Linked DNA regions of Homo sapiens: region 2 is linked to region 1. The links come from fine-mapping of genetic effects on gene expression. Tissue or cell type: whole blood. Region 1 holds a variant in brackets; the other region holds the start of a gene. All regions are shown on one strand. Distances are between the middles of the regions.

Region 1 (8,101 bases):
CACCATGTTGACTAGGCTGGTCTTGATCCTCCCACCTCAGCCTCCCAAAGTGTGCTGGGATTACAGGTGTGAGCCACCACGCCCAGCGATGCCAGGTGGCATTCTAAGCTCTGTACATGTATTGGCACATCTAACCATCAAAATAGCCCCATGAGGGTGGGACTGTTATGATCCTCATTTTAGAGATGAGGAAAACGAGGTTCAGAGAGATTGAGACACCTGCCCTAGGTCACAGAGCCAGGAAGTGACGCCACTCAGGCTATGCTTGCTCTGTTGTCTCACCTGTTCATCACCACCTGACGCGTAATCCAGGACTGTCCCCTCTCAGTCTCTCCCGCCCTTAAAATGTGTGCTGCCAGAGAACAGGATGCTTACTATCTCATTTAGAGCTGTGTGTCCCCAAGGACTAGACTAGTGGCTGAGGGTAGTGGGACGTTTATCAGTACTTGTTTTCTTTTCTTGTTGTTTTGTTGAGACCAGGTCTCGCTCTGTCGTCCAGGCTGGAGTGCAATGGTACAATCATACCTTACTGCAGCCTTGGCCTCCCAGCTCAAGCTATCCTCCCACCTCAGCCTGCTGGGTAGCTGGGACTAGAGGTGTGCCCCACCACGTCCACTTAATTTTTGCTTGTTTGTTTTGAGACAGAGTCTCACTCTGTGCCCCAGGCTAAAGTGCAGTGGCACGATCTCGGCTCATTGCAACTTCTGCCTCCTGTGGTTCAAGTGATTCTCCTGCCTCAGCCTCCTGAGTAGCTGGGATTACAGGCATGTGCCACCATGCCTGGCTAATTTGTGTATTTTTAGTGGAGACGGGGTTTTGCCATGTTGGCCAGGCTGGTCTCGAACTCCTAGCCTAAAGCAATATTCCTGCCTCGGCCTCCCAAAGTGTTGGAATTTCGGGCGTGAGTCACCGCGCCCAGCCTATAAGCACTTGTTAACTGGACTTAGAGAGATGGGGAATGCCTAGAATCTTCTGCCCCCTCTTCCCCAGCCCCACCAGGCCGCAAGGAGTCAACTCACTCGTTTTTTGTGCCCTTCTGCCCGCAGAACTCGCCCCGGCTGTCAGTGGGGTAGATCACCTTTCGAGGGTCTCCATGAGTCCAGGCTGTGGAAAGATCCAGGGATACTGAGACACTGCCACTCCTCAGATCCAGCCCTGTTCCCACTCCAGAGGCCATGGCTGCCTCCGCCTACCCTGCAACTCCAAGTCCTGCTCATTCTCTACTCACCTATGATGCCTACAGCCACGTAGCCCACAATGGCCAGGAGCAGGAACACACAGCATATGATATCCGTGCAGCCCCTGGGGAGCAGAGGGGCAGTGTTTGGAGGAGGCTTGGTGCTGTGTGCACCATGGGCCCATCTGCCCTCTGCAAACACCCTCATCCATGTGTTATTTGGACAAATTTTCCTGAGTCGTTTGAATGCCGTACCAAAGGGCACATGCATTTTAATTTTTATTTCATTTCATTTTTTAATTTTGTGCAACAGAGTCTCACTCCGTCATCCAGGCTGGAGTACAGTGGCATGATCATAGCTCACTACAGCCTCGAACTCCTGGGCTCAAGTGATCCTCCTGCCTCAGCTTCCCAAGTAGTTGAGACTACAGGTGCACACCACCACACATTTTTTTTTTAATTTATATACATTCTGTAGAGACAAGGTCTCGCTATGTTGCCCAAGCTAGACTTTTTTTTTTTTTTTGAGAGGGAATCTCACTCTGTCGCCCAGGCTGGAGTGCAGTGGAACGATCTCAGCTTACTGCAACCTCTACCTCCCAGGTTCAAGCGATTCTCCTGCCTCAGTCTCCCAAGTAGCTGGGATTATAGGTGCCCGCCACCATGCCCAGCTAATTCTTGTATTTTTAGTAGAGACAGGGTTTCACCATGTTAGCCAGGCTGGTCTCGAACTCCTAACCTCAAGTGATCCACCTGCCTTGGCCTCCCAAAGTGCTGGGATTATAGGTGTGAGCCACCGTGCCTGGCTGTATTTTATTTTTTTGTTATTTTTTTTTGAGACAGAGTCTCGCTCTTGTCCTCCAGGCTGGAGTGCAGTGGCGCAATCTCAGCTTACTGCAACCTCCACCTCCCAGATTCAAGCAATTCTCCTGCCTCAGCCTTCTGAGTAGCCTCTGAGTAGTCACAGCTACTGGAGAGGCTGAGACAGAAGACGTGCTTGAACCAGGAGGGGAAGGTTGCAGTGAGCTGAGATTGCACCACTCCAGCCTGGGTGACAGAGTGAGACTCCATCTCAAAAATAAATAAATAAATAAATAAATATAAACATGGTAAAAATTAAGTCCAGGCCAGGTGTGGTAACTCACACCTGTAATCCCAGCACTTTGGGAGGCCAAGGCAGGTGGATCGCTTTGAGCTCACGAGGTCGAGACCAGCATGGGCAACACAGCGAAACATCTCTGCTAAAAGTACAAAAAAAAAAAAAAATTAGCCAGGTGTGGTGGTGCAAGCCTGTAATCCCAGCTACTTGGGAGACTGAGGTGGGAGAATTGCTCGAACCCGGGAGGCGAAGGTTGCAGTGAGCCGAGATTGAGATCGCGCCACGGCACTCCAGCCTGGTGACAGAGCAAGACTCCATCTCAAAAAAAAAAAAAAGTTTCAAATATTTGTCACCAGTTTGTTGGAGAACAGATGGGAGGGGGTGTGAAGAGACAGGGATTGGGGTAGTATTAGCGGGGAGAACCCCCCAAAACCCAGAGCTCTTACCTATTGTAAATGGGTCCTTTGAAAGTGGGATCATACTTCTGTGGCGTTCCTGAAAGTCAAGAAGATTAAGATGGATGGGATTGGAGACCTGAACCAAGACAGGGCTGGGAGAGCCCCCTCCCAAAAGCCCCTAGGGGTGTCTTTGCCTTGGCAAGAATAAAATTCAGAGACCTGTGGAATTTTCTGCCTCACCCACCTCCAGGTGACCACACCCAAGCCCCCAGTTCTGGCAGGCCAGGACAGGGGAGGAAGGAGGGATCACTAACTGTGAACAAACTTATTAACTGGCGGCCACCCACTGGGAAGAGGGCTGAAATGGTGACCACCACGGAACCAGGTGGAGATGGGGAAGATCTGAGGTGGGATAGGGGGAAGGAGGCGCCGGCAGCAGTGCCAGGCAGAGGGGTACAGGGGCAGGTCCTTCGGGTAGGGGAGAGTAAGGAGGGTCGTCTGCGAGGCTGCGGGGGATAAGTGGGGTGAAGGGGCCTGGCTGATGGTGGGGAGGCTCCAGGCGCAGATTTGCAATTGCGCTCCCCCTCCAGCCCCCTTCCCTGCGCCCCATGTTCTCTCAAGGCCCCCTCCGAGGGACCGAGGGGTCGGCCCGGGGCTACGGGCGGGGGTCGCTGCCTACCGTGTTTCCCGTAGTAGTGGGGCCGCTCGTCCCCCATCCCTGCAGGCGACCAGCCCCGGCGGCCGCCCGCGCTCTCTCCCGCGCCCCCTCGACCCTCCCGAGTCTGGAG[G/C]GAGGCACTGACCGCGCGACTGGCGGCGGCTCCTCCCAGCACAGCGCCAGGCGGGGCGGCCCAAACCGGTCAGACCGGCCCGAGCTGGGCAGCTGCCCAGACTAAGGGACCCGGGAGGGCGCGGGCGGGGCTGCAGCTGCTCCCGCCACTCACCGGCCGGCCGCATTTAGCCTTCCCCGCCCCCACCCGGGAACCCTGCGGCTTCACCCTGGGAACACCCTGCCACCGGGCGATGCCGCCTAGAACCCCTGGCCACCCTGAAAGGGCGTTTCCGTGGCTTCGTTTTGCAGGTGTGGAAACTGAGGCACTGGGAGGGAAAACGGCCTACTGCCCAAACCCAGACAACCAACTGTGGAATGTTGGTGCTGAAAACTTCTCCAAGCTGTGCAGGAAATTAGTTTTCTTTCTGTCTGCTGCTTTTTTTTTTTGAGACAGGATCTCCCTCTGTTGCCCAGGCTGGAGTGCAGTGGTGCAATCACAGCTCATCGCAGTCTCGACCTCCCTGCCTCAAGCCATCCTCCTGACTAAGCCTCCTGAGTAGCTGGGACTACAGGTGCTCTACTGCACTCGGCTAATTTTTAATTTTTTTTGTAGAGATGGGATGTTGCTATGTTGCCCAGGCTCATCTTTAACTCCTGGACTCGTGGGCTCCTCCCACCGTGGCCCCCCAAAGTGCTGGGATTACCTGCGTGCACTACTGGGCCTGGTCTTAGAACAAGTATTTATTCAGCCCTTAGTGGGTGCAGGCCTTGGGCGGGGCACCGCATACAGTGAGGAACCAGAGAGACCCAATCTCCACCCTTGTGGAGCCCACATCCTCCTGGGTCGCCCTGAATTCAAATGCTCCTTCTGCACCCTCTGAACTAGAGGATACTTAACAAAGGGCTTATCTTCCTTAAGCCTCAGTTTCCTCAACTGCAAAATGAGGCTAAAGTATGAAACCAAAACTGACCTCAAAGAGCAGGCATAGGCCAGGTGCAGTGGCTCATGCCTGTAATCCCAGCACTCTGGGAGGCTGAGGCAGGTCGATCAGGATTTCTAAGCCAGCCTGGCCAACATGGTGAAACCCCTTCTCTACTAAAAATACAAACATTAGCCAGTGTGGTGGCACATGCCTGTAATCCCAGCTACTTGGGAAGCTGAGGCAGGAGAATCGCTTAAACCCAGGAGGTGGAGGTTGCAGTGAGCCAAGATTGCCTCACTGCACTCCAACCTGGGGGACAGAGTGAGACTCTGTCTCCAAAAAGAAAAAGAAAAAAGAAAATAGGCTGGGTGTGGTGGCTAACACCTATAATCCCAGCACTTTGGGAGGCCGAGGTGGGCGGATCATGAGGTCAAGAGATCGAGACCATCCTGGCCAACTTGGTGAAACCCCGTCTGTACTAAAAATACAAAAATTAGCTGGATGTTGTGGTGTGCACCTGTAGTCCCAGCTACTTGGGAGGCTGAGGCAGGAGAATCACTTCAACCCGAGAGGCGGAGGTTGCAATGAGCCGAGATCGTGCCACTGCACTCCAGCCTGGGTGACAGAGCGAGTGTCTCAAAAAATCAATCAATCAATAAATCAAAAATTAGCCGGGTGTGGTGGTTCATGCCTGTAATCCCAGCACTGTGGGAGGCCGAGGCGGGCAGATCACTGAGGTCAGGAGTTCAAGACCAGCCTGGCCAACAAGGCAAAACCCTGTCTGTACTAAAAATACAAAAATTAGCCAGGTGTGGTGGTGGGCACCTGTAATCCCAGCTACTGGGGAGGCTGAAGTAGGAGAATCGTTTGAACCTGGGAGGTAGAGGTTGCAGTGAGCCGAGATTATGCCACTGTACTCCAGCCTGGGCGACAGAGCGAGACTCCGCCTCAAAAAAAAAAAAAAATACAATACAATAAAAATAGAGACAGGATCTCACTGTGTTACCCAGGCTGGGCTCAAACTCCTGGCCTTAAGCAATCCTCCCACCTCAACCTCCCAAAGTGCTGGGATTGCAGGCACGAGTCACCACGCCACAACCTGCCTCTACTTGAATATTTATAGATATTTATAGTGCAGCCAATTATTTGGTTAACATGGCATTATACAGGTGGTGTGGAGGTATCCTCAGCAGGAATATACATTTAGTGCTGGGTGTACACAGACAGCATGAGGTTATACAGTCAGCGTGATCATATACATTTGGTGTCCAATAATTGTAGCTGCTGCCTTAGACTCTAGGACTCGCAGGCAGGGCTCTGGTCACTAACTCAACTTATCCTTAAAAAGGCGCCCTCTCCTCCTAGTAGCCACCAGCAGAGGGGCCCTGTCTAAACACCTGGACCACAGGCAAGGCCTGAGGCGCCAGGTCATGCCCTGGGGTGACCCAGACTCCTAAAGAAGCCCTGTGGTTCTCGAAGTCTCTGCCAGCCCAAAGGCTGGCTGGTCCCACCCTACCCATTCCAAGCAGTGGACAAAGAGAGCGAGCCACAGGCCTCTTCTCTTCCCAACTACACAGGGTGCCCTGGGGACAATTTATTCAGGCCCCACCCACCAGCTCCACACTGAGGAGTCCCAAAAGTTAAGCCCTCTGGAAACCCTTGTCTCTGAGCTGCACACCTATGTGACATCTGTCTCCCCCCAACACACGTGAGCATCTCATACTCAGTGCGGCGGCATCTAAGCTTTTTTGTTTTTGAGACAGGGTCTCACTCTGTCGCCCAGGCTGGAATGCAGTGGCATAATCACAGCTCACTGTAGCTTTGACCTCCTGGGCTCAGGCGATCCTCCCACCTCAGCCTCCTGAGTAGCTGGGATCACAGGCACGCGCCACCACACTCAGGTAATTTTTTGTATTTTTAGTAGAGACAGGGTCTCGCAATGTTGCCCAGGCTGGTCTGGAACTCCTGGCCTCAGGGATCCTCCCACCTCAGCCTCCCAAAGTGCTGTAATTATAGGTGTGAGCCACCGTGCCTGGCCTGTCCAAGCTTCTGATTATCCCATGACTCCGCTCCATCCTCCCACGTGCTCTGGCCAGGAACCTGGGCTGCCTCTCTGCTTGAGATCAGTTTTGCCTTCAGAGCTATCCAGAATCCAACCTCTTCTCACCTGCTCCTCAAGCACCCACCCTTTCACACAGCCCTGTCATCTCCTGCCTGGACCAACACAGACACTTTCTATCCTCACTATAGCGGCCAGAGACATCTGTGCACACCTAAGTCAGGACACATCCCTGCTCTGCTCAGAAACCTCCATGGTTCCCACCTCATTCCGAGGAAAAAGCCCAGCTCTTCGCCACAGCCCACAAAGCCTTGCATGACCTGCCCTGTCACCTCCCTGCCCTCACCTCCTCCCTCTCTCTCTCCATGGCTTACTCTGTTCAGCCTCACTGGCCTCCTGGGTACGTCCCACGCTCAGCAGGCATGGTCTGACCTCAGGGCCTTTGCACTAGCTGCTCGGTCCCTCTGCTTAGAATGCTCTTCTCTCAGACATCCATACAGCTCCGTTGCCTTCAGGCCTTGCCTGAAATATCACCTTGGCAAGGCGTGGTGGCTCAAGCCTGTCATCTTAGCACTTGGGGAGGCTGAGACAGGCAGATCACTGGAGGCCAGTAGTTCGAGACCAGCCTGGGCAACACTGTGAAACCCCATCTCTACTAAAAGTACAAAAATTAGCCAGGTGAGGCCAGGCGCAGTGGCTCACGCCTATAATCCCAGCACTTTGGGAGGCCAAGGTGGGCAGATCACCTGAGGTCGGGAGTTCCAGACCAGCCTGACCAACATGGAGAAACCCTGTTTCTATTACTACAAAAATTAGCCGGGGCGAGGTGGTGCATGCCTGTAGTCCCAGCTACTTGGGAGGCTGAGGCACGAGAATCGCTTGAACCTGGGAAGCGGAGGTTGCAGCAAGCTGAGATCATGCCATTGCACTCCAGTCTGGGCAACAAGAGTGAAACTCCGTCTCAAAAATAAATAAATTAAATTAAAAATTAGCCAGGTGTGGTGACACATACCTGTAGTCCCAGCAACTTGGGAGGTGGAGGTGGGAGGATCACCTGAGACCAAGAGGTCGAGGCTGCAATGAGCCAAGATCCTGGCACTGTACTCCAGCCTGGGTGACAGAGCAAGACTCCATCTAAAAGAAAACCCACAAAAACCAAAAAAAAAAAAAAAAAAACACCCAACCATCCCTTTCCTCTCTGTCCTATGACCTTTTCTTTTCTTTCTTTCATTTTTTTTTTCTTTTTTGAGGCAGAGTCTCGCTCTGTCGCCCAGGCTGGAGTGCAGTGGTGCCATCTAGGCTCACTGCAACCTCCACCTCCCGGGTTCAAGTAGTTCTCCTGCCTCAGGCTCCCAAGTAGCTGGGACTACAGGCACACACCAACGTGCCTGGCTGATTTTTGTATTTTTAGTAGCAGAGACTGGCTTTTACCATGTCTCTACTACTGGTCTCGAACTCCTGACCTCAAGTGATCTGCCCACCTTGGCCTCCCAAAGTGCTGGGATTATAGGCATGAGCCACTATACCTGACCCCTATGACTTTCTCTTTGTTGTTATTATCAAATAGAGTCTTGCTTTGTCACTCAGCCTGGAATGCAGTGGAGCAATCATAGCTCACTGCAGCCTAAACCTCCTAGGCTCAAATGATCTTCTCGCCTCAGCCTCCCAAGTAGCTG
Region 2 (8,101 bases), 37 kb after region 1:
TTTGCACCACTGCACCGCAGCCTGGGCGACAAAGCAAGTCCTTGTCTCAAATAAATAAAAAAAAAAAATAGGCTTCTGTAATTCAAGGGGCTGTCTTGAGGATTCCTGCATGGGCGACATTTAGGGCCACCCTCACTTATGGTGAGCACCATTTAAGCCAGAGTTAGTGTTACTAATAGTAATATTTGCATCCAGCAATATAGCAAAGCAGGCGGAAGCAGGCTGGGACCAGATTCTTAAATCCCGGGACTCAGATTCGAATTCTGGGTCAACTGCCTCCTGGCTCTGGGGCCGTGGGCTTGGGCAGGTGCCTTCACTTCTCTGTGTCCCTGCTTCTACCTTTATAAGATGGCACGAAGGAGACTTGTGCCAGATGATAACTTTTTATTTTTCATTCTATTTATTTATTTTCTTGAGACGGAGTCTCACTCTGTCACCCAGGCTGGAGTGCAGTGGTGCCATCTCGGCTCACTATAACCTCCGCCTCCCCAGTTCAAGTGATTCTTCTGCCTCAGCCTCCCAAGTAGCTGGAATTACAGGCATGCGTCACCACGCCCGGCTAATTTTTGTATTTTTAGTGGAGACAGGGTTTCGCCATGTTGGCCAGGCTGGTCTCAAACTCCTGGCCTCAGGTGCTCTGTCCACCTTGGCCTCCCAAAGTGCTGGGATACAGGCATGAAACATTGCTCCTGGCCCAGATGATAATGTTTTAATTAAAGTGCAGTGCTGCTGTCAATGTTGATGTTAATTTCAGGTGGAGAGGCAAGTGGATGATCCTGATAGCTGCTGTTCTCTAAGTCCCCACCTACAGGGGCTGATAAAGGGCTGGGCAGGGTTTGGGGAAAGGACAAGTGAGGTCTGGGTAGGCTGAGTCTTGTTCCCTGCAGGCCCTGCAGGACATCTCCCTCCCTCAGCCAAGCAAGGTGGTTCTAAGCAAGGCTGAGGTTTACTTTCCCTTTCCTTCTGCCCTGTCCTCAAAACTACCGCACTTTGGGAGGCTGAGGTGGGCGGATCACGAGGTCAAGAGTTCGACAGCATCCTGGTCAACATGGTGAAACCCCATCTCTAATAAAAATACAAAAATTAGCTGGGCATGGTGGAGTGCACCTGTAGTCCCAGCTACTTGGGAGGCTGAGGCAGGAGAATCGCTTGAACCCAGGAGACAGAGGTTGCAGTGAGCTGAGATCGCACCACTGCACTCCAGCCTGGCGACAGACTGAGACTCCATTTCAAAAGAAAAAAAAAAGGAAAGTCCAGGGGTGGAATCTGGGTCTGCAGCAGCTGGTGTGCACGAAACATGCATGGAGCCAGGGGCCATGCCAGGTATTTGGCTATGCAACTGCAGGAGAGGGCACCATGGCTGTTATACCCATTTAACATAAGAGGAGACTGAGGCACAGCAGGTGCATTCACCAGCCCATGCCTTATAGCCAGTGTGTGGTGGTATCAAAAATCAAACCCAGCATCTGTGCTCTCAACTGCTACATCATCATCCAGATCATCATCTTCATCCTCCTCCTTCTCAGCGACATGGTTGACAGTCAGCTACATCCAAGTTCCCTTCCAACACCACGTTGCACAGAATAACTCATTTAATCTGCACAAACCAGGCACAGTGGCTCAGACTACGCCTGTAATCCCAGTACTTTGGAGGGCCAAGGGGGGAGGATCGCTTGAGCCCAGGAGTTTGAGACCAGCCTGGGCAACATACCGATACACCATCTCTACAAAAAATGTAAAAATTAGCTAGGTCGGGCCGGGTGCGGTGGCTTACACCTGTAGTCCCAGCACTTTGGGAGGCCGAAGCGGGCGGATCACGAGGTCAGGAGATCCAGACCATCCTGGCTAACATGGTGAAACCCTGTCTTTACTAAAAGTACAAAAAGTTAGCCAGGCGTGTTGGCAGGCGCCTGTAGTCCCAGCCACTCGGGAGGCTGAGGCAGGAGAATGGTGTGAACCTGGGAGGCGGAGCTTGCAGTGAGTTGAGATCGCGCCATTGCACTCCAGCCTGGGTAACAGAGCGAGACTCCATCTCAAAGAAAAAAAAAAATTAGCTAGGTGGGCCTGGCCTGGCGCGGTGGCTCACACCTGTCATCCCAGCATTTTGGGAGGCTGAGGCGGGTGGATCACGAGGTCAGGAGTTCAAGACCAGCCTGGCCAAGATGGTGAAACCCCCGTCTCTACTAAAAATACAAAAAAAAAATTAGCCGGGCGTGGTGGCAGGCGCCTGTAATCCCAGCTACTTGGGAGTCTGAGGCAGAGAATTGCTTGAAGCTGGGAGGCAGAGGTTGCAGTGAGCAGAGATTGCGCCACTGCACTCCATCCTGGGCGACAAAGCCAGACTCTGTCTCAAAAAAAAAAAAAAAAATCAGCTAGGTGTGGGCCAGGCGCAGTGGCTCACGCCTGTAATCCCAGCATTTTGGGAGGCCAAGGCAGATGGATCACGAGGTCAGGAGTTCGAGACCAGCCTGGCCAACATGGTGAAACCCCATCTCTACTAAAGATACAAAAAATTAGCTGGGCTTGGTGGTGCACGCCTGTAATCCCAGTTACTTGGGAGGCTGAGGCAGCAGAATCGCTTGAGCCTGGGAGGCAGAGGTTGCAGTGAGCCGAGATTGTGCCATTGCACTCCAGCCTGGGCAACAGGACGAGACTCCAAATTAAAAAAAAAAAAAAAAATTAGCTAGTTGTGGCCAGGCGCAGTGGCTCACATCTGTCATCCTAGCAATTTGGGAGGCCAAGGCGGGTGGATCACCTGAGGTCGTGAGTTCAAGACCAGCCTGACCAACATGGAGAAACCCTGTCTCTACTAAAAATACAAAAAAAGTAGCCGGGCATGGTGGCGCATGCCTGTAATCTCAGCTACTCGGGAGGCTGAGGCAGGAGAATTGCTTGAACCTAGGAGGCATAGGTTTCAGCGAGCCGAGATCACATCACTGCACTCTAGCCTGGTAAACTAGAGCAAAATTCTGTCTCAAAAAAAATTAGCTGGGTGTGGCGGTTTGTGCCTGTAGTTCCAGTTACTAGGGAGGCTGAGGCAGGAGGATGGCTTGAGCCCAGGAAGTTGAGGCTGTAGTGAGCCATGATTGCATCACTGCAGTCCAGTCTAGGGTACAGAGTGAGACCCTGTCTCTACAAAAAAAGTTTTTTGGCTGGGTGCGGTGGCTCACGCCTGTAATCTCAGCCCTTTGGGACGCTGAGGCGGGTGGATCACCTGAGGTCGGGAGTTCGAGACCAGCCTGGCCAACATGGTGAAACCCCATCTCTATTAAAAATACAAAATTAGCCAGGCGTGATGGCGCATACCTGTAATCCCAGCTACTTGGGAGGCTGAGGCAGCAGAATCCCTTGAACCCGGGAAGCGGAGGTTGTAGTGAGTAGAGATCATGCCACTGCACTCCAGCCTGGAGTCTAAAAAAAAAAAAAAATTAGCTGGGCATGGTGGCGCTTGCCTGTAATCCCAGCTACTAGGGGTGCTGAGGCAGGAGGATTGCTTGAACCTGGGAGGTGGAGGTTGCAGTGAGCCAAAATCATTCCACTGCACTCCAGCATGGGCAACAGAGTGAGACTCCATTTCAAAAAACAAAAAAAAATAAATTTTTTATTTGAAATGAATAAGAGTAAATTTGTAAGAATAATAAAAGCAAGTACATTTGTCCTGCTCGGAATTATATCCACAGTTCCTGTTACTGAGTGAATGAATATTTCAAATTCAGTCAGTAAAATTCACCAGTGAAAATTATTATATGAATGAGTGAATGAATGAATTGGGCAAATTTTGAGCACCCAGTGCTGAGCACTAGGGACATAAACATGAACAAGACAAAGTCCCTGCTGTATGGGGGCTGACGTGTGTGGGTGAGACAGAGGAGAAAGAAGGTGAATGGATGGATGAATCAATGAGAGGATGAATGAATGGATAGATGGGTGGATGAATGGATAGATGAATAAATTAATGAATGCAAGAATGGATGGATGGATGGATTGATGAATGGATAGATGAATAAATTAATGATGCAAGAATGGATGAACGGATGGATGGATGGATGGATAGATGAATAAATTGATGAATGTTAGAATGGATGAATGGATGGATGAATGGAAAGATGAATAAATGAATGAATGCAAGAAGGGATGAATGAATGGATGAATAAATGGATGGATGAATGGATAATGGATAGACGAACAAATAAATGAATGCAAAAATGGATGAAGAAATGGATGACGAATGGAAGGATGGATCAATGAATCGATGGAAGATGGATTAATGAATGGCTAAATGAGTGGATGCGTGGATGGATTAATGAATGCAAGAATGAATGGATGGATGGACGAATGGATGGATAGATGAATGAAAGGAAGGATGAATGAATGGATGGAAGGATGGTTGATTGGTTTGGGGTCTCCACCCGTCATTACTCCTGGGTGGCTAGGGAAAGTGAAGGGGGGCAGCAGACCCATCTGAAGTCGCAGTACCTCTCCCGGCCCCGCAGCCATCTTCAAGTTGGCCGACAGCGCTGCTCACCTGGCCGCCTCCCCTTTAAGACGCACACACCTGGGCTCTCACCTGGGCGCAGGCGCTTCCGCAGGAAGAAGGAAGCGGCGCCGCCATCGCCTCCCGGCGCTCCCTCCCCGACTCCTAAGTCCTTCGGCCGCCACCATGTCCGCCTCGGCTGTCTTCATTCTGGACGTTAAGGGCAAGGTGAGGCTGGGCATGAGGAGTTGGGAGACGGACAGGTGAGGTCTCGCTCCCAGGGATTCAGGGGCGACCCCTCCGCGCGGGCCAGGAAGAGGTCTGGGAACACCCCCTCCCCCTGCAATCCCTGGGAATCCCACCTCCAGCATCCACTCGCCTTGTGCCTGAGGCCAAGGGGTTCGCCTCCTAGGGCCTCAGTTTCTCTGTATGTAAAAATGGGAGCAACAGAGGTCCCCACCCAATGAGAATTAATACAACTCGCTGCGTGTAAACTACTTAGCATAGTGGCCTTTCTGGAAATATTAGGGACTCAGCAAATTGAAATTATCTCCATCACTGTCGGCATCCACAGTGTTAATACCTGGGGAAGGCAACTGGAACAGGGGCCTCTAACTCCCCCCATCTGTGGCTGCCTTGCCTCTTCCTGAAGTCCTTTTATTCCTCTTGTCTTTTTTTATTTTGGAGACAGGGTCTCTTGCTGTCTCCCAGGCTTGAGTGCAGTGGTGCGATCATAGCTCACTGCAGCCTGGAATTCCTGGGCTCAAGCGATCCTCCTGCCTCAGTCTCCGGAGTAGCTGTGACTACACAGGTGCAGGCCACCATGCCTGGCTAATTCTTGACATTTTTTTGTAGAGGGATCCCGCTATGTTGCCAAAGCTGCTCTCAAACTCCTGAATATCTGGGGCTGCGGGCTGACCCCTCCATGCCCGGCTATTTTTAATTTTTTTTTTTTTTTTTTTTTAAATAGAGTCTTGCTCTGTCACCCAGGCTGGAGTGCAGTGGCTCCATCTTGGCTCACTGCAACCTCCACCTCCCGGGTTGAAGCAATTCTCCTGCCTCAGCCTCCCGAGTAGCTGGGACTACAGGTGCATGCCACCATGCCTGGCTAATTTTTGTATTTTTTTTTTTTTTCAAGACAGAGTCTCGCCTTGTCACCCAGGCTGGAGTGCAATGGCATGATCTTGGCTCACTGCAACCTCCACCTCCCAGGTTCAAGTGATTCTCCTTCCTCAGCCTCCTGAGTAGCTGGGATTACAGGCGCGCACCATCACGCCCGGCTAATTTTTTGTATCTTTAGTAGAGATGGGGTTTCACCATGTTGGGCAGGATGGTCTCAATCTCTTGACCTCGTGATCCGCCCACCTCGGCCTCCCAAAGTGCTGGGATTACAGACATGAGCCACTGCGCCCGGCCGCACCCGGCCTATTTTTTATTTTTATTTTTTTGTACAGATGGAGTCTTGCTATGTTGTCCAGGATGGTCTTGAACTCCTGGTCCCCAGCTATCCCCCTGCTTCAGCCTCCCAAAGTGTTCGGATGACAGGTGTGAGCCACTGCAGTCAGCCTGTCTTGTCATTTAATAGCCAAAATAAGAGTGGTGGTGAAAATAATATTCCCATTAATATTAATAGTGAGAGCTAAGATGTTTGAGAACCTGCCATGGGTCCTCCCTGTTCAGACACTGGACAAAACAACCTTAGGAAGTGGTTAACTAATTTTTTTTTTTTTTGGAGATGGAGTCTCGCTCTGTCACCAGGCTGGTGTGATCTCAGCTCACAGCAACCTTCACCTCCTGGGTTCAAGTGATTCTCATGCCTTAGCCTCCTGAGTAGCTGGGATTACGGTCATGCGCCAGCACACCAAGCTAATTTTTGTATTTTTAGTAGAGACGGGGTTTCATCATGTTGGCCTGGATGGTCTCGAACTCTTGACCTCATGATCCACCCGCCTTAGCCTCCCAAAGTGCTGGGATTAAAGGCGTGAGCCACCGTGTCCAGACAGAAGTGTTTACTATTATGGGTGTCTTCCTGACTACCAGGCACAATCATATGAACTGTCATCTTTCTTTCTTTCTTTCTTTCTTTCTTTCTTTCTTTCTTTCTTTCTTTCTTTCTTTCTTTCTTTCTTTCTTTTTTTCTTCTTTCTTTCTTTCCTTCTTTCCTTCTTTCCTTCTTTCTTTCTTTCTTTTCTTCTTTCTTTTTTTGACAGGGTCTCACTCTGTTGCTCGGGCTGGAGTGCAGTAGTATGACCACAGCTCACTGTAGTCTCGACCTCCTAGGCTCAATTGATTCTTCTGCCTTAGCCTCCAGAGTAGCTGTGACTACAGAGGTGCAGGCCACCATGCTCAGCTAATTCTTGAAATTTTTTGTAGAGGGATCCCGCTATGTTGCCAAAGCTGGTCTCAAACTCCTGGCCTCAAGGGATCCTCCTGCCTTGGTCTTCATGAGTGAGTCATTGCACCTGGCCTCTTCTTTGTTTTTTTTTTTTGTTGTTGTTGTTTTTTTAAATAATCCCACTTTGGTGCAAATGAAGTCTGGGGCAACAGCAGGGATTCTGGACCCAGGATGCCTTAGATCAATCCCCAGTTTCCATATGCTTCCAGTGGACATGGTTTCTAACCTCACTTCTCCTGTGTGAAATGGAGATGATGATAACATCTACCCCACAGGGTTGTGGCAAGAACTAATAAGTTAGTAAACATCTACTCTTTTTTTAGTAGCCAGCCTGCCTGCCTACCTTCCTTCCTTCCTTCCTTCCTTCCCTCCTACCCTCCCTCCTTCCCTTCCTCCCTTCCTTCTTTACTTTCTTTCTTTCTTTCTTTCTCTCTTTCTTCTTTTGAGATGGAGTCTTGCTCTGTCGCCAGGCTGGAGTGCAGTGGCACGATCTCGGCTCACTGCAATCTCCGCCTCCCAGGTTCAAGTGATCCTCCTGCCTCAGCACCCCGAGTAGCTGGGACTATAGATACACGCCATCACGCCCGGCTAATTTTTTGTATTTTTAGTAAAGACGGGGTTTCACCATGTTGGCCAGGATGGTCTCGATCTCTTGACCTCATGATCCACCCGCCTCGGCCTCCCAAAATGCTGGGATCACAGGCGTGAGCCACTGCGTCCAGCCATCGCCTACCCTTTAATAAAACACAGCCTGGCACTTAGTGAGGGCCCTAGACCCATTAGCTGTTGTCATCACACTCCCATTTTACAGAGCAGGAAACAGGCACAAGGAGGCAGAGCCTTGCCCAAGCCCCTCAGCTAGGAAGTAGGGTCAGAACCGGGCACTGTGCCTCCTCAGCGTGGTAGGTTCTTGGATGCTGGTGGTGACCAGGTCCTTTCCTTCCACCCTCAGCCATTGATCAGCCGCAACTACAAGGGCGATGTGGCCATGAGCAAGATTGAGCACTTCATGCCTTTGCTGGTACAGCGGGAGGAGGAAGGCGCCCTGGCCCCGCTGCTGAGCCACGGCCAGGTCCACTTCCTATGGATCAAACACAGCAACCTCTACTGTATCCACCCCACGTGGTGTCCCTGGAGGTGGGTGTGGGGGCTGTCGGCGATGGTGGCAGCTCAGGCCAAGAGAGGGTGGGCTGAGGACAGGAGTTGCACCGCACATCTCTGTGGCTTAGGCT

What was found. PIP is the estimated chance that this variant, and not a neighbour inherited with it, causes the effect.
Region 2: AP1M2 starts here. The variant in region 1 is fine-mapped to the expression of AP1M2 in whole blood (TOPMed, PIP above 0.99).

What each region holds. Positions count from the first base shown.
Region 1 is chr19:10,620,923-10,629,023 of GRCh38, reverse strand. It overlaps SLC44A2 (solute carrier family 44 member 2 (CTL2 blood group)), which reads right to left and starts at 3,471. Exons shown (of 22, transcript NM_020428.4): 1 at 3,354-3,471; 2 at 2,723-2,771; 3 at 1,229-1,302; 4 at 1,020-1,104. The coding sequence starts at 3,390. RefSeq lists an enhancer at 4,432-5,013. The variant G/C (reference allele first, on the strand shown) is at 3,463.
Region 2 is chr19:10,583,791-10,591,891 of GRCh38, reverse strand. AP1M2 (adaptor related protein complex 1 subunit mu 2) reads left to right here and starts at 4,580. Exons shown (of 12, transcript NM_005498.5): 1 at 4,580-4,702; 2 at 7,822-7,978. The coding sequence starts at 4,661. RefSeq lists a silencer at 712-912.